Regions from separate parts of the Homo sapiens genome. Here regions 2, 3 and 4 are each linked to region 1. Evidence: fine-mapped expression QTL. A gene starts in region 1. Each other region holds a variant in brackets. All regions are shown on one strand. Distances are from middle to middle.

What was found. PIP is the estimated chance that this variant, and not a neighbour inherited with it, causes the effect.
Region 2: its variant is the best candidate, but not a certain one, in a credible set for the expression of GDI2 in whole blood (INTERVAL, PIP 0.82).
Region 3: its variant is the best candidate, but not a certain one, in a credible set for the expression of GDI2 in whole blood (TOPMed, PIP 0.87).
Region 4: its variant is the best candidate, but not a certain one, in a credible set for the expression of GDI2 in whole blood (INTERVAL, PIP 0.70).

The regions. Positions count from the first base shown.
Region 1 is chr10:5,810,103-5,815,895 of GRCh38, forward strand. It overlaps GDI2 (GDP dissociation inhibitor 2), which reads right to left and starts at 3,332. Exons shown (of 11, transcript NM_001494.4): 1 at 3,112-3,332. The coding sequence starts at 3,156. LOC124902367 (a long non-coding RNA gene) reads right to left here and starts at 3,095. Exons shown (of 2, transcript XR_007062041.1): 1 at 2,213-3,095; 2 at 1-1,854. RefSeq lists silencers at 2,613-3,152, 3,293-3,562, 3,623-3,802 and enhancers at 2,754-3,346, 3,347-3,939, 4,003-4,102.
Region 2 is chr10:5,857,896-5,863,688 of GRCh38, forward strand. It overlaps ANKRD16 (ankyrin repeat domain 16), which reads right to left. Exons shown (of 8, transcript NM_019046.3): 8 at 3,721-4,796. It also overlaps the pseudogene RPL12P28. Among named protein-coding and RNA genes, the nearest start is that of TRV-TAC3-1, 7.0 kb to the left of the region's middle. RefSeq lists enhancers at 4,542-4,591, 4,892-4,961, 5,162-5,291. The variant A/C (reference allele first, on the strand shown) is at 2,853.
Region 3 is chr10:5,704,284-5,710,076 of GRCh38, forward strand. The region is part of intron 1 of TASOR2 (transcription activation suppressor family member 2); the gene reads left to right. Among named protein-coding and RNA genes, the nearest start is that of TASOR2, 22 kb to the left of the region's middle. The variant G/A (reference allele first, on the strand shown) is at 3,203.
Region 4 is chr10:5,769,136-5,774,928 of GRCh38, forward strand. GDI2 (GDP dissociation inhibitor 2) reads right to left here. Exons shown (of 11, transcript NM_001494.4): 7 at 4,707-4,806. Among named protein-coding and RNA genes, the nearest start is that of GDI2, 41 kb to the right of the region's middle. The variant C/T (reference allele first, on the strand shown) is at 2,500.

The sequences.
Region 1 (5,793 bases):
AGAATTTTAAAATCAAGTATAAAACCTTCTCTGAATCTGAAATCACAAAATTCTGATAAAGAGAAATGAGGAAAAGTATCTGGGATGTAAAGCAAGTTTTTAAACATATGATGCTGAGAATCATCTGGTATACATCACTAAAGTATATATTTCTATTCATAAATTCTTACTGTGTAGAACAAAAAATGGGAAGAAAAAAACCTCTGGGAAGCACAAACAGCTGTGGAACTAGTTACTCTTATTGTTTTAATCTACTATGTCTAACAAGACTCGTGAATTTATTTCCAAGTCCATAGTGAACTATGTGCAAATTATGTGGTGAGAGGCTGCCTACACATGCTGAAAGCAGAGAAAAGTAAATGTTGCCAGCCTAACAGTAAAGTAAGATAGAGGGAAAAAATATGAAGAGTAAACTGAAGAGCTCAAAAAGCATAGCAGCCTGAGAGTAAAGGGGGCAAAAGTTCCTACAAAGCTGGCGGGGTCTTCATGGCTTCACCATGTTACAGCATAACACAATAGTTAATCTTCACTATGTGAAAACTTGGTTATCAAGTAAATTATGTTTCTTAGTTTGTTAAAGAAGTTGTGACAGCATTTAGAAAGGCATTATCCAAAAGCTGTGCTCTTTAGAGATAACCTTTAGTTCCTCAGAAAATTCAATTGTGTGGAATATTCCATTTCTTTTACACACAGAATGAAGATTTTACTCCTTTATACCAAATCGTTTTGTATCTTCTTGATTAAGATAACTATCAATATTTGTGATTATGAGCTTAGACTTAACAACTCATACAAACAATGGCAGCACTAAGCAACACAGCAACTCCAGCACTTCCTTACACTTCTTTAAAAGTAACAAGTTCCTAACACTGAAAGTACTTGCCTTTTTTTAGGTTCTTAAGTCTCAGGCACTAAAGTAAATTTTAAGAAAATTAATTAACTCCAGACATTCAAAAGTTAATTCTGAGTGCTAACTTTGGTTTTCTCTTCTTCTAATTTTTAATCATCTAATTCCTGGTAACACTAAAAATAAGGATATATGATTTCTCATTATCAAAATCATCCTGTCATCACTACTCCTATCAATGATGGTAATAATGTGATTGTCCTGAATTGATATAATTATCAAAGAACATCTCAGAAAACTTAGGAAGGCTCACAGAGATTAAAGTTATCACAGCTACAAAATGACAGCAGAAACAGGTCTGATTTCTAGTTAAGTATGCATCTACCATTCATCAAAGAGTTCACAATCCGAATGAAAATTTAAACAAAGCTCATTATCTTAACTTGTTATATAAAAACACTTTCACCATCTTTGATACAAAGTGATGTGAACGAGGCTTGTGGAAGCCTGCATGATGGTGGATTTGCACTCACTCGTGCATGCTTAACTGACCTCAATTGTGAGCAAATCTGAAAGACCAGCAACAACCATAGAAAAACGGTGGAACTAACCGGCTCTTAAAACACGCTGGCAGCAACACTACCCATTCCAACAGGCAAAATCCACCACAAACTACTAAGCTCAGCTTGGAATCCCAATTAGGCACTTAAAAAAAAAAAAAAAAAAGCACAAAACCTGCAGTGGGTAGGGCCTATTCATTTAGGCATCCAACAGTCTTCCAGCTTTTCAAAGACAGACACAGGATTATTCCTGGATTGGTCAAACATAACGAAGTATTCAGAATGAATATTCTCTAATAATTGCATATAACTATAAACAGAAAAATGACAGACCAGAAAAACACGATTCTAATTCTTCACAAACCTTTCCTAAAAAATTAGCCAAATAAAAGTTCGAAGGTTTTCTCTTGCCTAGAGACATCTAAAAGTGTTATTTTGGGATGTTACCTGTAAAAAAAAAAAAAAAAATTGGTTTGACCCTGAGAGATTATAATAAATTTCAAAAAATTTGAAGTGGAAGTCTACATTAAATGACTCAGGAATTTGAAGTCAGAGTACATAGGATACACAAGATTTACATCAGTATTCATCTTAATTATGATCAAGCAGCCCAAAGTTAGAATTTCAAATTTCCCCAAAAATTGATAGTTAAAATGGTTTTCTCCAAAGTGAATTCTTTTGCAAGATGAACATTTAAAAAAAAAAAAAAAAGAACAGAAAAAGTACAAACTACAGAACCTGCCTGCGTTATCTACAGATTACCTAAAGTTCCCTTAGAAACAGATAACCAGGAAAATCAATATACCATGATATTAGGTACACCTTGCATTCATATATTACAATGCATTCTTCATGTTATTATCTTCCAACTCCCTGAAGAAAGCTTCGGAGTACAGAGAACTTGGCTTTTAGCAATCCATCACCAACCCAATTCTTAGGGGAAAACAGTCCAGAAGAGACAAAGGAGGCAGAGAACCCACCAAACAAAAGGAAAAGGCGGCGAAGGTCAGGTGCGAAAGCATTTGACGGACAAGTTTTGAAAAAACTCAATTCCAATTCTACAGATGCTCAGTAAGTGAGAAGGGAGGGTGGCTAAAAGGATTCAATAATACTTCTCATTAGCAGGGGGGAGAAAGGATTAAAAGACTAATTTCCACGTTTTCGCCAAAAATATAAGTTAATCAAGCCCTAGCAGTTCCGAAGCAGTGATTATCCAAGACTTGTCAGGAAACCCCGTACTCGGCTTTGGCAGCCAGACTGACCCGGGGCAGCGGCCGAGGCGGAATAGGAAATGCAACCGCGAGGCCTGCACCGTCCCCTCCGCCTCGGGTGCTGGTTTCCAACCGGGCGAGGTCACCGGCCCAAACCGGGGAGCGGGACCCTTGGCCCGGGCGGCCTTCTCCCCTCCCCTCCGCTTCCGCTGGGGGCAAGCGCAGAGGCCGGGCTCGGCCGTCACCCCGCCCCGAGCCTCACGGCCCGCATCTCCATTTCCCCGCCTGCCCCTCACACTGGGAGCCGCCCGCTCGCCCCGGGACGCGGGGCGCCCCTGAACCCGCCCGCGCCCCTAGCCACGACTCCCGTCCCGAAAACTACGGCTGACGGCAGAACGAGACCCCCGAGGAGCTGCGACCCGCGGGCCGTGCAGGAGCCGGGGGTGCGCCCGCCCCGGCTGCTCAGCCCCGGCCCCTCAGCCCTGGCGCCCACCGTCAGGCCGGTGCCCAGCACGATCACGTCGTACTCCTCATTCATGGCGGGGCAGGCGCGGACGCAGGACCCGAGCAAGGAAAAGGCGCAGGGGCTCCGTGACCACCCTACGAGGCTGGGAGGCGCTCTTGGGCGCGAAGGAAAGGGGAAGAGAAAGAGAGGAAAATGGAGCTGGCGACAAGGCGAGACCGACCGCCACCTCAGACGGGAAGAGAAGAACTGGGCGGGGAGAGGAGGGGAGGGAGCGAGGAGGGGAGGGCTGTGACTGAGCCTCCGCAGCCGGGGCGGGGCCTGCAGGCGCCGGGAGGGCCGCCAATCAGGCGCTCCCGGCACTCTAATTGGTTACGTCCCCGTCGCTCGCACAACTTTTTTTCCTTCCCCGCCTCTCGCGAGAGGAAAAGGGCGGGGCGTCGCCATTTTGGCTTCCGGTTCCCCTTGCGGCCTCTGCCACGGTGGTTCGGGAGGCGGCGCGCGGGCCGGGGTGGAGGTGCACGGAGCCGCGGGCGGGGACTGCTGGCCACCACCGTTCTGACTCCCGCCGTCGGGGCGGGAGCTCGCTCGGTCCAAGGTCCCAGAGCCGGATCGCCGCCCTTGGACTTTGAGCGGGCGCGTGCGGCGGCCACGTGGGCGAGGAGCGCGGGCCGGGCTGCCTCTCGGGGGTGGCGGCCTTGGTTCCTCCCGCGGGGCTGGGCTTGCCGGGGCCCGGAGCCCGCCGGGAAGAGTTCGGAAATCACACGTGTCCTTTTTCCCGCTCTGTGCCCTCCTTGTTTAGTGCGTTGCCGGTGGGCGCTTTAGGAAATTGGTAGGAGGAAAAGCGGCTTCTTTTGAAAAGGTAACCCTTAACAGAGATGAAAGTGAAAGCCAGGTTTCATTGGGAAGCCGATCTGCACCTACCGAGGGCTGTAACTTAAAGCCGCTGTAAACGTGGTAGCTGATCCTTGTATGCAAAGGTTTAGGCCCTAAGCTTAGAAACTGTTCCTTGCTTGCCTTCTACCCCGCTCCTCTTTTTCTAGAATTCTCTTAGGAATCTCTGGCTTCATTGAGGACACAGGTGTAAGCAGAAGCTGTGTTCTCAGCTCCAAGAGGCCGACCCCACGAAAGCCTAAGCAGGTGAATTTCGTAAAGACGTTGACAGTTGGAAAACCTGTGCTTTCAGCACGTGATAAATCTGCAGAGTCAGCAGACAATGAAGATTTGGCATTCAAGAACTCCTCAAATACTTCTCGATAGTAGCTATTCAGAGCCTGCCTTGATAGACCGAACTTGCTCATATTTAAATCATTAAGATAGAGGAAAGAATGTAACAACTTTTTAAAATGTTTCTTACCCCATAAATACTTGAAGAAGATATGTTATATTGGACCATGGATCTTTCTGGGGGGGAGGGGAGAAGAAAGCAAAAGTAAAGTTTAAATTTACATTCAACCTTAATTTGATTGTATATATTTGTGACCAAATGAATTAGTGCACAGTTGACCATACAACTGATTATGCAACAGTGAGTGTAACTGACTTTTCTTTTGGCTAAGCTAATGATGACTAAAGAAGGTCCTTCTGTTGCTCTGTCTTCAAGTCATCAGGGGGTCATACTACCTATATTTTTGAACCAATATGAAATAACCCTTTTTCTTTATTTTTCTGAGACAATCTCACCCTGTCGTCCAGGCTGGAGTGCAGCGGTGTAATCATGCCTCACTGCAGCCTTGATCTCCTGGGCTCAAGCCATCCTCCCACCTCAGTCTCCCCAGTAGCAGGGACAAGAGGTACAGGCCACCACACCTGACTATTGGCCCTTTTTTTTTTATTAGCAATAACAATAAAGAGCTTTTTTCACAATTGCCATCAGCCTCTGGCTCTTGAAGAGAAATTTAAGCATGTCAACTGAATTATGTTAACCATGTTTTAGGTGAAGACTATTTTATCGATACTCAAGAGTTGTGAGAAACTTGAAGACACTGAGATAAGGGAATTGAATTTAAGGCTAATAAGGATCCCTTCCTTACTTAACACTGAAGTTCATTTTAGTTCACAGTACAGGCCCTATGGCCCAACAGAAGGACAATAACAATCAAACCTGGACTAAGCCTTAACGGACTGAGTGCATCTAAAATGTTGTACCTGAGCCAGGCACAGTGCTTCACACCTGTAATCCTAACACTTTGGGAGGCTGAGATGGGAGGATCACTTGGGGCCAGGAGTGGGAGATGGGAGAATCACTTGGGACCAGCCTGTGCTGTAGAGCCTAGGTAACAGAGACACTGTCCCTATAAAAAAAATTAGCTGGAGGCCGGGCACGGTGATTGATGCCTGTAATCCCAGCACTTTGGGAGGCTGAGGTAGGCGGATCACAAGGTCAGGAGTTTGGAGTTTGAGACCAGCCTGGCCAATATGGTGAAACCCCATCTCTACTAAAAATACAAAAATTAGCCGGGCATGGTGGCACGTGCCTGTAGTCCCAGCTACCCGGGAAGCTGAGGCAGAGCAATCGCTTGAACCCGGGAGACGGAGGCTGAAGTGAGCCGAGATCGCGCCACTCCACTCCCGCCTGGGCAACAGAGTGAGACTCCGTCTCAAAAAAAAAAAAAAAAAAACTGGGCAGGCTGGGTGCAGTGGCTCACGCTTGTAATCCCAGCACTTTGGGAGGCCAAGGCGGGTGAATCACGAGGTCAGGAGTTCAAGACC
Region 2 (5,793 bases), 48 kb after region 1:
GGGATTACAGGTGTGAGCCACTGCGCCTGGCCCTCCCCTTCATTCCTGTTCCCCTCCACAGGTTGGGGAGCAATCTTGGACCACATGGAAAAGGGCAACCTACTCAGGACAGCAGAACAACCAGCAGAAGGAACCGGGGGGCTGACACCTGGGGCTGGTTGAGCTCATCTGTACTTGGCTATGCCCAGACTCTTATGCGGGAAAGAAAATAAACTTTGGTTTAGTCCACTGTTATTTTTTGGTCTTTATTTAGAGACAGGGTCTCACTCAGTCACCTAGGCTGGAGTGCAGTGGTGTGATCATAGCTCACTGCAGCTGTGAACTCCTGGGCTCAAGGCATCCTCCAGCCTCAGCCTCCCAAAGTGCTGGGATTACAGGTGTGAGCCACCCCACCTCCATCTAATATTAAATCACAAAATGGAATTATCTAAGTCTGTATCAGCTGGAAGAGAGGAAAGGATGTGGTAGACCCAAGGCTCTGTGTTCAAGGGACAGGACGAGCCACAAGCTGGATTTTGTTCCTACGTCTTTTGCGTTCATTTACCTTTTAGCTAATCGTGGATTTTCAGCAACACTGGGAAAAATAAAGACCATGCATGTTGTAGGCTGGCACAGGTGGAAGCTCTAGAACTCTGAGAGCTGCTTTAAAGGTACCACATACTGTAATCTAAATAGAAACACCCTATCATATCCAAGGAATCTGTGCCATCCCACTCCCAGCATTGTAGTGAGTGCCTGTGTATGCCTGTATCTACTCACAAGAGCTCTTTTTTTTTAAAGGAGCTATAAAGGAGATTATTTCTGCTGTGCTGTAGTCTGTTTTTTTTTTTACTTGTAAATGTATAACCCAAATTTTGTCATTATTTGAAATTATGTGTAGAGCTAATTTACCCAATATAAAAATGACTCTTACAAATCAACAAGACAAAACAATGGTCAAAAGATGAAGCAAGAACTGGTTTCATTAATGGCCCCAATCAATGGCCTCTGTGTCCAGTCTGTGGGTTCTGCCCCCTACACTAATTCTGGGCATGACCATGCCTTGCTTTGGCCAATGGGATGGAAGCATCTACACAAACAGAGCGGAGACTGGAAAGCACATTTAAGTCTCTTTTCTCTCTTGAATCTCTGCCACTGTCATGAAAAATAAGCCTGGGCTAGCCGAATGGAGAGACCATGGGGAGCAGAGCCAGCTTGATCCACCCAAGGCCATCCTATACCAGCTCAGCAACTCACTGGCTGACGGGACGCAGGAGTGAGCCCAGTTGCGAGCAGCAAAGCCACCCAGATGCCCTACAGACTCCTGTTTCAACCCAGTGAGCTTTGGGGTGGTCTGTCATTTAGTAACAGCTAACTGATACAGGTAAAAATAGGAAAAAGGGCTATAATGGCCAAAAAAACAAATCTAAAGATCTTCAATCTGATTGAGAAATGCCAAGGCCGGGTGTGGTGGCTTATGCCTGTAATCCCAACACTTTTGGAGGCCAAGGTGAAAGGACTGCTTAAGGCCAGGAGTTCGAGACCAGCCTGGCCAACACAGTGAGACCCCCCTATAAAAGTGGAATCTCTACATAAATTTTAAAAATTAGCTGGGCGAGCTGGTGCGTGCTTGTGGTCCCAGCTGCTCAGGAGGCTGAGAAGGGAGGATTGCTTGAGCCTAGGAGGTCGAGGTTGCTTGAGCCTAGGAGGTCAAGGCTGCAGTGAGCTATGGTCACACCACTGCACTCCAGTCTGGGCAACAGAACAGGACCCTGTCTTTAAAAAAAAAAAAAAAAAGAAATGCAAAATTAAAATCATGAGATAGTACATCATGTTAGTGGCCATTAAAAGTGTGATACCGTGGCCAGGCGCAGTGGCTCACGCCTGTAATCCCAGCACTTTGGGAGGCCGAGGCTGGTGGATCACCTGAGGTCAGGAGTTTGAGACCAGCCTGGCCAACATGGTGAAACCCCATCTCTACTAAAATACAAAAATTAGCTGGAAGTGGTGGTGTGCGCCTATAATCCTAGCTACTTGGGAGGCTGAGGCAGGAGAATCGCTTGAACCCAGGTGATGGAGGTTGCAGTGAGCTGAGATTGTGCCACTGCACTCCAGCCTGGGCGAGAGTGAGACGCCGTCTCAAAAAAAAAAAAAAAGTGCGATACCACACAGCTTTGGTGATGGGTATGCCTGGGAAGGAATCTTGGCAAAAGCGATGTCTGTGGTGCTCAAGACCCATCCCAGCCTCCTGGGCATGTGAGCCCCACACTGCAGACACAGGGAAGTTACCAGCTACATGCCCCAGGCTCCCCTAGGTCCAGATTTTGAGATGTGAGTTGGATTCTGCTAATTGCTTGAGTTTCGGAAAGCAGAAGCGAAAGCCGTATTTCTGCTTCCACTGGCAAAGGCTGCAAGTGATTTTCTGTGGAGTGTTTTCTGATCATTTGGCCTCTCGACTGTAGCAGATGAAGACAGCAAGCTTCTGGAGTTGGAAGCGAAGGCAGCAGCTTCCTATACTGGCAAAGATTTTCCTGATTGAAAAGGCACTTCTTTTTGAGGCCTAGGTCTGAAGTACAGCCCTTGATATCGTCCCTGAAAGTTCAACGAGATTTGTTCTCGAGCCTTCCTGACAATTCTGCATACCATCAGGACCCCGTAACAAATCTTCTGCATAAGCTGGCTCCAATGAACGCTAGTCTCTGCTAACTGAACTGTAGCTGATACAGTTGGCAACCTAAAAAAATGGACAGATCCTTTGATCCGCTTCTAGGAATTTATCTTCCAGTCATTCCCATAAGGACACAAAGATGTGTCCGGCACTGCTGTTTATAATAACTTAAACAACCCCAGAATGTCCTAAAATGTCCAGAAAT[A/C]GGGAACAGCTTAGACAAATTGTGGCACATCTGAAAGATGGAATGTCAGAAAGAATGCAACATTATGCAAAGTTAAAAAGAATGAGGTAGATCTTTAAGAACTAATGAGAAAATGAAAATAACAAAACAAAAAGAACTAATGAGAAACAATGCACTCAGTTTAAAGTTGCAAGAGTGTTATATGATCCTATTTGGAATAATCTTTATTTGTACTGTCTGAATTATTTTTCCCCAGAAGCAAATATTTTAGAATATAAACTCATTAAAAATGAAATAAAGCGCATGAGTGTTACATCATATATAACCTTATTCAAATCCATGGGTAATTCCTTGAAGGCATACCATGTGCAGGAGCTGTGTGCAGCCTTCTGGGGTTTGTAAGGTGCGTAAGATACAGTAACTGACCCAGGCGGGGTGCGGTGGCTCACGCCTGTAATCCCAGCACTTTGGGAGGCTGAGACGGTTGGATCACCTGAGGTCAGGAGTTTGAGACCAGCCTGGCCAACATGATGAAACCCTGTCTCTACTAAAAATACAAAAATTAGCCGCGCACGGTGGTGGGAGCCTGTAATCCCAGCTACTTGGGAGGCTGAGGCAGAAAAATCACTTGAACCCAGGGGGCGGAGGTTGCAGTGAGCCGAGATCGTACCACTGCACTCCAGCCTGGGCGGCAGAGTGACTCTGACTCATAAAAAGAAATAGTAACTGACCTCCAGGGATGCATGACTCAGTGGCCTTGACTACCACTTATATAAATAGTTCTAACATAAGGCGAACCATGGGATAATTGCTACAAAGTGCAAAGCAGGAACAGGGGCGGAGAAATTAATTCTTGTGAACCTGGAAGACATCTGACGACTCTGCTGGGTGTGGATGAAGAGATTATGCCAAGAGCTAATTTTTATTAAATGCTTTTTCTATTCCTGGGTTCTTTGAGAATCATTGACATTTATTATTTACTACACATCAGACACGGTGTTAAGTGGCTTAGATGAAATGTCTTTTTTTTTTTTGGTTATCAGATAACCCTTTGTGAAAATATTTTCCTTTGCATTCTTTAACTAGCTGGGCATTCCACAGCTTCACTGTTGGTATCATCTGTGATACTATCAACATGGCAGCTCACAGACTGGGCAGGCCCCAGGAATTCTTTTTTTTTTTTTTTTTTTTTGGAGACGGAGTCTTGCTCTGTTGCCCAGGCTGGAGTGCAGTGGCGCATATTCGGCTCACTGCAAGCTCTGCCTCCAGGGTTCACAGCATTCTCCTGCCTCAGCCTCCTGAGTAGCTGGGACTACAGGCGCCCACCACCATGCCTGGCTAATTTTTTTGTATTTTTAGTAAGAGACGGGGTTTCACCACGTTAGCCAGGATGGTCTCGATCTCCTGACCTCATGATCCTCCCGCCTCGGCCTCCCAAAGTGCTGGGATTACAGGCATGAGCCACCGCAACCGGCCCCCAGGAATTCTTTAATGGTTCCAGAGAGTTCTCTGGCTAAAGACTGCTGCTGCATCTGTTAGGCAATGTTGACAATCTCATCAGAAGTGGTGCTACCACTGTGTTTCATGTTTTTGTGTTTCTTTCTTTCTGTCGGTGGTTCCTGAGGGTTGTGACGATCAGGGCAGAGGCAGAAGGCACCACCTCAATCTGGGCCTGTCTGCTGTGGCTGGTCAGTTTCACTATCATCCTCAGACTCTTCCAGTCAATGGTTGGTGATGTCATCAGCAACCATTTTTGGAGACAGACCCAGGGAGCTGACCTTGGGGGCCAGTGCAGATGTGGCACTGACTTCACCACTGGTACACCTCAGATATACAACTTTGATCTCGCTGGGGTCAAACGTAGGTGGCTGCGGTTGGTTGAACTCAGGTTCAGGATGACTGAAGCAAGTTGCACTTGGCTTTCTCTGAGCCGAAAAACGAAAGGTGCTCAGGCTCCCAGCAACTCTGTGAAGAAAGAGTTATTATCATCTCAGTTTACAGATGAAACAGAAGCTCAGAGAGGGCAAGCAGCTAGCACAAGGTCCCACAGCTGGACTCAGGGCTGCTGGCTACAGGGCCTGGCTCTACATGCTGCACAGTCAGAGAGGGAGAGTCCCATGCGCAGTTGGAAGGGAGAAGGGAAGGGGAGGCTGGCGCTAGATAGTAACAAGCTGTGTGTTTTGGGCATTTCCCCTGTACCAGACACTGTGCTAAATGACCCTTCTGCTCTGTTTGCCTGGAAAAGTCCCCATCTTAGTGAATTCTGACTTTCCACCTACTGTCCCGGAGCAGCTGACTGTGGTGGAGAAAACTGCAGGACAGGGACCCTCAGCTGCTGCTATACAGCCAGTGATCCTGCCACGTCCCTGACTCCATGGGCTTTCAACACGAGGCCTCCCCAACGCAGTGTCCACACCAGCATTACTGTGGAACTTGGGAGACATGCAGATCCCACAGGAGAGGGAAGGGGGAGCTGCTCTCAATTCAGATCAAGTTTCCCCTGTGCCAGAAGAATCAGTCCTCCAGATGGGTGGGCAGCACTGGGCCTGAGGTGAATGTTACTGTGCTGTACGCTCACAAAGTTAGAGGGCAGAGCTCATATTAAAGGTTCATACTGAGAGGTGAAGCCAGCTGGACTTCCTGGGTCAAATGGGGACTTGGAGAACTTTTCTGTGTAGCTAAAGGATTGTAAATGCACCAATCAGCACTCTGTAAAAATGTACCAATCAGCGCTCTGTGTCTAGCTAAAGGATTGTAAACATACCAATCAGCACGCTGTAAAGTGGACCAATCAGCACTCTGTAAAATGGACCAATCAGCAGGACGTGGGCGGGGACAAATAAGAGAATAAAAGCTGGCCACCCCCTGCCAGCAGCAGCAACCCACTTGGGTCCCCTTCCACACTGTGGAAGCTTTGTTCTTTTGTTCTTCATAATAAATCTTGCTGCTGCTCATTCTTTGG
Region 3 (5,793 bases), 110 kb before region 1:
GGGCTTGAGACTTACATACCTATAACAACTAACTCTACCACTTATTTAATAGTTGTAGGTATATTCTGTTTTCTTAAGTAGGTTTTGATAAATTATTTCTGGAAAATTCCCCTGTTTTCTCTATGATTTCAATTTTTTCTATAAAAATTGTTTCTATTACCCTTATAATTTATAGTACATATAAATCACACTCCTTTTTATTTGTAATGTTGGTTTTCAGTGCCTTGTTTTGTCCTTGATTAATTTGACTAAAGATATATCAATATTTTTTGTCAAAAAGCTAATCTTTTTTCAGCTATTTTTTCTTCGGTTTAATTAATATCTGATCTTCTCTTTTTATTTCCTCCTCTTATTTGCTTTGGGTTTACTGTGTTGTTCCATTTTCTGAGTTCTTGAATTGACCGTAGCTTATTGATTCTTTAAATGTTTTTCTTTTGTAGTGTATACATTTGAAATGAACAGTTTCTTATAGCTATTTTAGATAATATCTTAAGCTTAGATCATGTTACTCTTTAACTTATGAACCATTTATATGTAGGATTTTTAAAATTTAAATTTCCAAACATGAGGCTTTTGAGATTAACTTTTTATGGTTACATTGTCATTTTACTTGATTTTGGTCAGAGATCAGTTGTTTTTTAGTACTCTTGGAATTTCCTTTGTGGCCAAATTCATAACCATTAGGTTTTGTTTTGGGGCTTTCAGCTCAACTTCATTGAGGTCTAATTTTCATACAATAAAATGAACATAATTTAAGTATATAGTTCAGTGAATTTTGGTAAATGTATATACCATGTGATGACTACACCAATAAAAATAGTGTGTGTCCATCACCCCAGAAAGTTCCCTTGTGCATACCCCACTTGTAGTCAATTTTCCTATTCCTGCCCCCTGCTGTAGGCAACTAATGAAATGCTTTTTATCACTATAGATTAATTTTGCTGCTTCTTGAACTGTATATGTATAGAATTTTACAGTATGTACTCTTGTGTCTGATGACTTTTGCCCAGTTTAATGTTTTGAGATGCATGCATATATCAGTTTTACTTTTTTTAATTGCTGATTATTATTATGTGTGAATATACAAGTTTATCCATTCACCTATTGATGAATATTGGAGTTGCTTCCAGTTTTAGGCTACTGTGAAAAAGCTGCTCTGAACATTCATGTGCAAGTGTTTTTGTGGATATGTTTTATTCTCTTGGGTAAATATCTAGGAATAGAATTTTGGGTCATATGGTAAGTATGTGTTTATAAGAAACTGATGTTATTTTTTAAATTGGCTATATAATTTTTCAGTTGGCTTTATATTTCTACTAGGAGTGTTCCAGAGGCTCCTCATCCTTGCCAACGCTTGGTATTTTCAGTCTTTTTAGCCATTCTACTGGAGCAGTAGTATTTTATTGTGGTTTTAATTAGCACTTCCCTGATAACTAATAATATTGACCCATTTCCCATGTTTCTTTTTATTATATGCTTTATTTTGTGAAATGTGTCTATGAGTTTTTTATATATTCTAGGTACAGGTACTTTACAAATATTTCCCATTTCTTAATAATGATACCTTGGAAGATCAGATGGTTTTAATTTTTAGGAAGTCTGATGTATACATTTTTCTAGGTCACTAATTTTGTGCCCTATGAAAACTTTATGTACCCCATAGTCAAGTACATTTTTTCCTATGATTTTTTAAATTTTATAATTTTAGCCAAATAGTTATAGTTTTTATGTTTAGGTCTGTGATTCATTTTGAGTTAAATTTTATGGTTTAAGGTAGAGGTTTGAGGTTCATGTTTTTTTCCTCCGTTTTAGTTGTTCTGTAGCAGCATTTATTGCAAAGATATTCTTTCTCAATGGAATTATACTGGCAATATTGAAAATCTGTTATCTGGACTCTATTCTGTTCCATTGATCTATATGCATTTTCTTTGTATCATTACCACCTTGTCTTGACTACTTTAGCTTTGTAGTAATTCTCAAAATCAGGTAGTGAGTCCTTCAGCTTTGTTCTTTTTCAAAATTGTTTTGGCTTATATCTTTCTTATATAAATTTTAGAATCAGATCATCAGTTTCTGCAAACTGAGATTGTGTTGAATCTGTAGATCAATTTTGTGTCTTAACATCCCCCAGCAAAGTTAGAAAGCCAGGCAGTAATATCAGAGGGCACAAGCCCAGATTGAAGCTGGAAGACATAGTGCTCCAGAAAGGTCCTTCCAAAAAAAAGAAAAGAAGCTGCTCAAAACAGACAAAATCTTTGATCTATCTTTATCCAGAGGATATTGTTAGTTCTCTAGAATTTCAAGCTGAAATAATGATTGGTAACTGAAAATTAAGCTATTTTAAATTCAGAAAAGCAAAACACGGTATAAGGAAAGAACTTGACTACACAGTATGGCTCAGCAATGATTAATACATACAGTTAAGTAGTGAAACCTAGGCCTAGCACGGTGGCTCATGCCTGTAATTCCAGCACTTTGGGAGGCCGAGGTATGCAGATCACTTGAGGCCAGGAGTTCGAGACCAACCTGGCTAACATGGTGAAATCCCATCTCTACTAAAAATACAAAAATTAGCCGGGCATGTTGCTGGGCACTTGTAATCCCAGCTACACGGGAGGCCGAGGCAAGAGAGTTGCTTGAACCCGGGAGGTGGAGGTTGCAGTGAACCAGAATCAAGCCACTTACGCTCCAGCCTGGGCCACGGAGCAAGACTCCGTCTCAAAAAAAAAAAAGTAAGCACCCAACAAATGTTAGCCATTGTTATCATTAATAACAATAGCTTCCTTGCTAACAAATACTAGGATAACGTCTCTATCCATGGCAGCAAAGAAAAAAGGAATTTGCTAAGTTATCTGATGCCAGTGCACCATGCCTCATGCACAGCAAGCCTTCAGTAAAGTTCCTTGTAGAGTCACAACTGAAAGGAGCTTTAGAAAGGCAATTATAACTAAAGGAGGCCTTAGAGAGTATAAATTTAACAAAATCCATCAGTTAGTATGTCTTCAGCTTCCAATAAAAGTTTAAACAATAAGGAACATTTATTATTTCATGTATAAAGCCCAAAGATGAGGCAGCCCCCAGGTTAGTTTATTTCATCAGTTCAGGGATCTAGTTTCTTTCTGTTCTGTTCCGTTCTATGTTGGCTGCCATCTTGGTTGCAAGGAGATCCAGGCAACACATCTTCAGACAAGATCCTAGGCTA[G/A]AAGATGGAGTCCTTTTCTAAGAAAGGTTTCCCAGAACTCTCTCTGTAGACTTCCATTTATATCTCACTGGCCAGAACTGAGTCACATGTTTATTCCTAAAACAAACACTATTCAAAGGGAGTGGAATTACCATAATGATCTTAGAGTAATTAAGATTCTCATTCTCTTTCTCTCTCTCTCTCTCTCTGTCTCCCCCCCCAACCCCACACACACACATACTCACTCTCCCTCACTCATTTTCACACACACACACACACACACACACACACACACACACACACACACACACTTCTTCTGAACCATGGGATAACCTGATACCTGAACAAAATTGTGGTTTTATGGAAGGGAAGTAAAAGGGACATGATTGTTGGGAAGTCAATCCAATGTGTCTTTAACCACTGTCTCAAAACACATTAGTGGTAGCACCTAGTGAGTTCAATAGGTAGACCAGAACCCTGGTCTCCCTATTCCTAATTTTCCCCTACATAAACAACCTCCTTCATGAATTATTATCAACATAGCTACTTTTCCTAAAAAATTTTGAATGTATCCACACAATTCTACCTCCAGTTCTTTTTGGGGGGAAAATGTGCTGTAAAACTATACATGCTGTTTTTGTGAAGCATATGAAAATCCTTATTCCACAGACTCATGATAAAAACTGAAAACTTGACCACCTTTGTAATCTTTTTCTTCGTTCTTATTCTTCTCTCCCTTCTTCCCTTAATCAGTCATATTAAACTATTTGCAGTTCCTTTAATGTATCATGTTTAAACCGCTGTTCATTTGCTCATACTATTTCTGCTATCTAGAAAATGTACACTAGTTTCCTTTTTTGGCTTCCTCATTGGAATATCTTCCAGATTTCAAGTATCTGTGCCTCCATGAAATCTTTCTTGACATAGCTCCATCTCCATAAAATTGGTTGTATCACTGTACATCCACTATATCATGTTTTAGATACTCCTACACATTTATAGTACTAATTTCTTTGCAGATTTTTCTTCCTTGTCTATTCTGAGCTAACTTGCTTGCTTTCTCTTTCTTTCCTTTCTTTCTCTTTCTTTCTTTCTTTTTCTTTCTTTCTCTCCTTTTCTCTCTCTTTCTCTATCTCTTCCTTCCTCCCTCCCTCCCTCCCTCCCTTCCTCCCTTCCTTCCTTCCTTCCTTCCTTTCCTTCCTTTCTTCCTTCCTTCCTTTCCTTCCTTTCTTTCCTTTCCTCTCTTTCTCTCTTTCTGACATGGTCTGGCTCTGTTACCCAGGCTGGAGTTCAGGGGTGCAATCTCAGCTCACTGCAACTTCTTCCCCCCAGACTCAAGCCATCGTCCCACCTCAGCCTCCAAAGTAGCTGGGACTACAGGTGCACTCCACCATGCCTGGCTAATTTTTGTATTTTTTATAGAGGTGGGGTCTCACTTTGTTGCCCTGGCTGGTCTCAAGCTCCTGAGTTCAAACAATCTGCCTGCCTTAGCTTCCCGGCGTGCTGGGATTACAGGCATGAGCCACCTCGCCCAGCCTAATCTGAACTTTTTTAATGTAGAGCCTGTTTCCCTGTAATAGAGACTGTTTGCCATTTGTCTTGATAAATCCAAGATTTAGCATGATATTGGATGCATAATAGTCACCACTAATAGTTTTGTTTAATGAATATATATACAACTAATTTGGGGGAGGAGAGAGATTTTTGTAAATTGTGTTCTGCTTGATTCCGTTATTTTCAACTAGTGGAATAAAGATGTGGTTCTGTGATCTCTTCATTTTGAAAGATTTTTTTTCAGTAAGGCAAAAGCGATTAAGCATAATATATTTCTGTGTACAAAATTTTCTTTAGAAGTTAAAGACTTTTGGAGGAAAAACATTTCAGATTATGTGTTATAGCTTATAGAACAAATTAAGTCCTTAGCTGAGAATACTTGTCAAAGGAGGTAAATAAATATTACATAATTATTCCTAATACAAATTACTCAGCGAACATTTGTTTCTATAGTAAATATGCTATAAATAGAATTGTTCACTTTATGATTTTTTTTCTTTCTTCATTTTAGCATTTATGACATTAACAGAGAACAGGACTATGTCAAGAATTCTGAGGGTATACTTGGTGAAAATGAATTAAGACCACCCTCCCAGCTACATTCTCTCTTAGAGAAGATCGAGACAGGGTCCCTATCAGAAAAGAGTGGGTATTAAACTAAGTGCTATAAGTCATAACTAATGAATCCAGAATAGAATGATTAAAATGTTTTTAGTTTTAATTTAGATCATGTAAAACAAAAAGACTTTAAAAAATTATGATTTCCAGTACCTATATTTTTTAAAATAATCATTAGTCCAAAAGTAATAGGTGATTAACTTTTCAAATTGCAACATAAAACACGTATGTTCCTCTGTTGTGATTGAATTTAACCTTTCTCACATGCTCTTTATTCATCACTTAAGCCCTAAGGGATATACTTAATGCTTTATAGGCAAGCACTTTTCAAGTTTTACCGTCTTAGATTTTTAGGTTTCTTTGTGGTATAGCCCCCTCTTCATTTTCATAGTCTGGTAATCTTGAATGTTTAAATAAAGCTTGAGCATTGCTCAGCAGTT
Region 4 (5,793 bases), 41 kb before region 1:
ATAAAGAAATTTTTGCATCAGAAGACACTAATCAAGAGTTGAGGCAACTCACAGAATGAGAGAAAATATCTGCAAATAAGGGATTAATATCCACAATACATCAAGAACTCCTAAAACAACAACAAAAAAAACCCTGATTCAAAAATGATCAAAGGGCTGGGCGCGGTGGCTCACGTCTGTAATCCCAGCACTTCGGGAGGCCAAGACAGGCGGATCACCAGAGGTCAGGAGTTGGAGACCAGCCTGACCAACATGGAGATACCTCGTCTCTACTAAAAATACAAAATTAGCTGGGCACGGTGGCGCATGCCTGTAGTCCCAGCTACTCGGGAGGCTGAGGCAGGAGAATCGCTTGAATCTGGGAGATGGAGGTTATGGTAAGCCGAGATCACGCCATTGCACTCCAGGCTGGGCAATGAGCAAAACTCCGTCTCAAAAGAAAAAAAAAAAAAAAATCGAAGGACTTGAATAGACATTTTTCCAAAGAAGATATGTAAGTGGCCAATAAGCACATGCAAAGATGTTCAACATCACTAATCATAACTTCAGTGAGCTACTACCTCACAACCGTTAAGATTGCTACTATCAAAACAAAATTAAGTGTCAAGGATATGGAGAAACTGGAACTTCTTGTCCACTACTGACAGGAATGTAAAATGGTCCAGCCACTATGGAAAATGGTATGGCAGTTTCTCAAACATTAAAAACAGAATTACCATATGATCTAGCAATTCCACTTCTGGGTACACACCCAAAAGAACTAAACGCATGGTCTTGATGAGACATTTGTACACCCATTTTCAGAGTAGCATTATTCACAATACATTCACAAAAACATGGAAGCAATCCAGGTATCGATGAATGGATAAGCAAACTATGGTCTATCTTTCCATACATTGGAATATTATTCAGCCTTAAAAAGGAAATTCTGACACATGCTACAACACAGATGAACCATGGACATCATGCTAAGTGAAATAAACTAGTCACAAGAAGGCAAATACTATATTATTCCGTTTATATAAAATATAGTAGTTAAAATCATAGAGAAAGAAAGTAGAATGGTGCTTGCCAGTGGCTGGAAGCAGAGAACGAGGAGTTATTACTTAATTGGTAGTTTCCTTTAGAAGAGGAAAAGTGAGTGTGGGCACAGTGGCTCACACCTATAAAATCCCAGCACTTTGGGAGGCCAAGGTGGGTGGATCATTTGAGGTTAGGAGTTCAAGACCAGCCTGGCCAACATGGGGAAACCCTGTCTCTACTAAAAATACAAAAACTAGCCGGGCGTGGTGGTATGCATCTATAATCCCAGCTACCTGGGGAGGCTGAGGCAGGAGAATCACTTGAATACGGGAGGCAGAGATTGCAGTGAGCCAAGATCATGCCACTGCACTCCAGCTTGGGCGACAGAGTGAGACTCCATCTCAAAAAAAAAGAAGAGGAAAAGTGTTATGGAGATGAATGGTGGTTGTGGTGGTTGTATAATGATGTGAATATATTTAATACCACTGAACTGTACACTTAACAATGGTTAAGATGGTAAATTCTGGCCGGGCGCAGTGGCTGACGCCTGTAATCCCAGCACTTTGGGAGGCCGAGGCAGGCAGATCACCTGAGGTCAGGAGTTTGAGACCAGCCTGGCCAACCTGGTGAAACCCCATCTCTACTAAAAATACAAAAATTAGCTGGGTGTGGTGGTGGGCACCTGTAATCCCAGCTACTCAGGAGGTTGAGGCAGGAGAATTGCTTGAACCTAGGAGGCAGAGGTTGCAGTGAGCCAAGATCACGCCACTGCACTCCAGCCTGGGCAACAAAGTGAGACTGTCTCAAAAAAAAAAAAAAAAAAAAAAAAGATGGTAAATTTTATGGGTACTTTATCACAAAAAAAAAAAATGGAGGGAAAAAGACTAATATTCAGTGTCTATAATGTTTTAAACAGTATATTAATGTAATTTTCCCTTGAATATAATCTGTTATCTTCATAATCTAATGAATATAAAAGTCAAGGTAATTATTAAACTGTCGGTAACTACTGAAACTAGCTTTGCCAATTATCCCTACTATTTTCTCCTTGAACAGATATATGAACTGTAAATCCTGTTCAAATACTAGGAAAACTGTGTTGCACAGTATTCAGAAGTATAAGTTTTAGAATTGGGCAGATCAGGGTTCAAATCCTGGCTCTACCTAACCTCAAAGGATTGTTGTTAGTACTAAAATTCAGCCACGTCCAGCCCCTTGAATGCAAGGACATTTTTGCTTATTTGTGGTGGCAGACATCACGAAATTATGCACAGACCCTTTTTCCAGCTATCATTACTGTTAGCATATTTTATGTGTGACCCAAGACAATTCTTCCTCTTCCAATGTGGCACAGGGAAGCCAAAAGGTTGGACATTAGTGAACTAAATGAAATGGTGTAAAAAAGTCTGTCATTATAGGTGGGTGTCCTGACAAAAAATAAATGCTCAGTAAATGTACTCTACATAGACTAAAATC[C/T]TTATCATCTTAAGGCTATGCTTCCTAAGAAAAACTTGAATTGCAAGATAAATGTATTATAGCCTCCTTCCCTTTCATATCAAAGCCCTGAAGTTTCAGAAACACAAAGAATGAAACAAAAGAAAAATACAGAATAAAAGTAACTTTCAGAAGACAGATTAAAACATTTATCCCTGGCCGAGCGCGGTGGCTCACACCTGTAATCCCAGCACTTTGGGAGGCCGAGGCAGGCAGATCACGAGGTCAAGAAACCAAGACCAGCCTGGCCAACATGGTGAAACCCCATCTCTACTAAAAATACAAAAATTAGCTGGGCATGGTGGCACATGCCTGTAGTCCCAGCTACTTGGGAGGCTGAGGCAGGAGAATCACTTGAACCCGGAAGGCAGAAGTTGCAGTAACCAAGATCGTGCCACTGCACTCCAGCCTGGTGACTGAGAAGAAAAAAAAAAACACACCATTTATCTCTATCTCCTAAACAACTATTATGCTGAAAGTACAAGCAGTGTTACTGTCCCTGATGAAGATCTTCCAGTGGAACACGATGTGGAGATGGAAGACAGTGATACTGATGACCCCAACCCCACAAAGGTGGCTGAGTGAAGTTTGTTGGACCTGGATGGTAAACAGTGCTATTTGTGCTGATATACCTGAGAATTAAGTTAGCATTAACAAAACCTAGTAATGTACATGTCAAACAAAATATGACTTCTTTTGTGCTTTGTAACTTCATTTAAAGCAGATAAGCCAATCACACTACGACAGTCAAGATGAAACAGGGTTATAAAGAAGTTGCCTAAAATATATGTTCAAAAGACCCAATTAAGTAACAGTCTAGAAGGCCAGGCACAGTGGCTCATGCCTGTAATCCCAACACTTTGGGAGGCTGAGGCGGGCGGATCACTTGGGGCCGGGAGTTCGAGACCAGCCTGGCCAACATGGTGAAACCCCATCTCTACTAAAAATACATAAATTAGCCAGGCATGGTGGCATGCATCTGTAATTCCAGCTACTCGGGAGGCTGAGGTAGGAGAATCACTTGAACCTGGAAGGTGGAGGGTGAAGTGAGCTGAGATCACGCCACTGCACTCCAGCCTCGGCGACAGAGCAAAACGATTTGATGTCTCAAATAAATAAATAAATAAATAACATTTTAGTAGATAAAACACACAAATCTAACATCACCCAGCACAGGAATTTACATCCTCAGGTGTATAACGACTGAGGGCTGTGGGTGCGGAACACCTTAATTCCAATTCTACCTCAGCCATTCATTAAACTGTGTGCCCTTGTAGATGTTTCTTCATTTAAGCCTCCAGGTATAACCTGGACATAATACCCGCCTCTTAGGATCCTTGTAAGGAATAAATGAGTTTGAAAATGTGCTTCACAAATTATTATCAGGCGTTTTTTGCCCCAAGTCAGTCCTGTATTTTCTCTCCCTTACTCATTGTCCCCTTACACCACCTACCAAACTCTGATCTCAAACTTTCCAGTGAGACCTAAATAACTGAAGATGCCCCCCACCCCACCACCCAGGAGGTTGCTACATTCCCACACAGCTTAATGTTAAAAAGATAAAGCTTAGATTTTTAGAATTCCAGTGAGACAGTAAAGCAGTGCACTTTGAAGTGCATCCTCTACTGCAAGAACTGTTGCAGATAGTAACAGTGTCAAATGGCAGAAGAATTAATTCATATGGTGATAAAGGGAAACGATCTTTTTTTCCTTGTGATTTTTTTTTTCAGTAGCATCCACATCACCTAAGAGGTTTCAAGAAAATGCAGAGCCTTCTCAGACCTACTGATTAGAACATGCACTAGAACCAGATTAATGATGCTTTATATATAATTCACATTTGAGAAATGCTGCTCAAAACCCCACCCGTGTAGGTGGCCTGCAAGTACAGTTCAATTTCAATGAAAATTTGGGAGACAGGCACAACCCAAACTCTATAAATACAGAATACTTACTATTTAGAGCTCACCCATAATGCATATTTCAATATTAAAATAATCAACAACTGACAACAAAAAAGATGCTTTTAAAACAAAGCACAGCAACTGTAATTAGTCCTTAGTCACAATAAATACTAACTTCCCATACAGAAATCATATGCATCAGTGTCCACACCAAAATCAATATTTAGAATACACAACTTTCTTCACAAGAACATAGTAATTTTTTTCATTTTAAAAGCTACTTACTTCTCCTTCAGATTTTACACCAATTACTTTTCCATTCTGTACAATGATTTCTTCAATGGGTTTATTCAGCATATAGGTACCTCCATAAATAGCACTTAGCCTGGAAAATTTTTAAAATCCCAATTAATAATATATAGTTGTTTCAACTCCTAAAGTCCCCTTTCTTAGATCTTAATGAGTTACAGACAATATACATTTGTTCAATTTCCTTCTAGAAAGATGTCAGCTTAGAAGTGATTAAAGCAAGAAAACAGAGTCAAAAACACAAACATAATCAGTTATAAATACGAAGTCAAAAAAAATCACTAACCAGGCACTTGTCTTTCGAGCTGCCCACTCGGCCCTCCTCCAAGTGTACTTTCTTTCCTTCCTTTCATTCCTGCCCTAAAGCTTTTCAATAAACGTCCACTCCTGCTCTAAAACTTGCCTCAGTCTCTCCTTCTACCTTATGCCCCTTGGTCATTCTTTCTTCTGAGGAGAAAAGAACTGAGGTTGCTGCAGACCCGTACGGATTCATCTCAGCACGGTAACATATTTTGGTGCCTGTGACTCGGCTACCTTCCACCAGCAACACATTTGGTGCTGTGTGACTCGGATACATTCCCTAGTAGTAAGAGACCTCTACACCTCATTTTCTTTGGCTGGAGGCGTTCAACCCCCATACACGGTTTTCTTCTCCCCTTTCCACTCTCCCGCTTGCTAACCAATCACCGGAACAGTTCCTCTCGGCCGCAGCGGCTCTGCATCCATAGCTTATCCCTCCTCGCTCACCCTGATGGATGGCTCTTCGGGGTCCACACTGAGCAGACCTGAGACACTAATGGCCCTCCTGGACAGGAGGCTCGTGAGTGTGGTGAGGCTAAAGCCTAAAGCCATGCGATGTCTGGGTTTTACTCTGCTTCTTCAACTAAAATCGGCTCTTTCCCAAAACCCCACACTGTCTATTCTCCTGTTTTTCCTTGTGTGTGTGTTCTAAAATGGCCTTGTGCAGTCGCGGGACTATCCACATCAGAGGCAAATCTGCCATTTCTCTGGATTCACACCCAGGGGAAGGGGAAGGGCAAGGGCAAGGGCAAGGCCAAGGGAA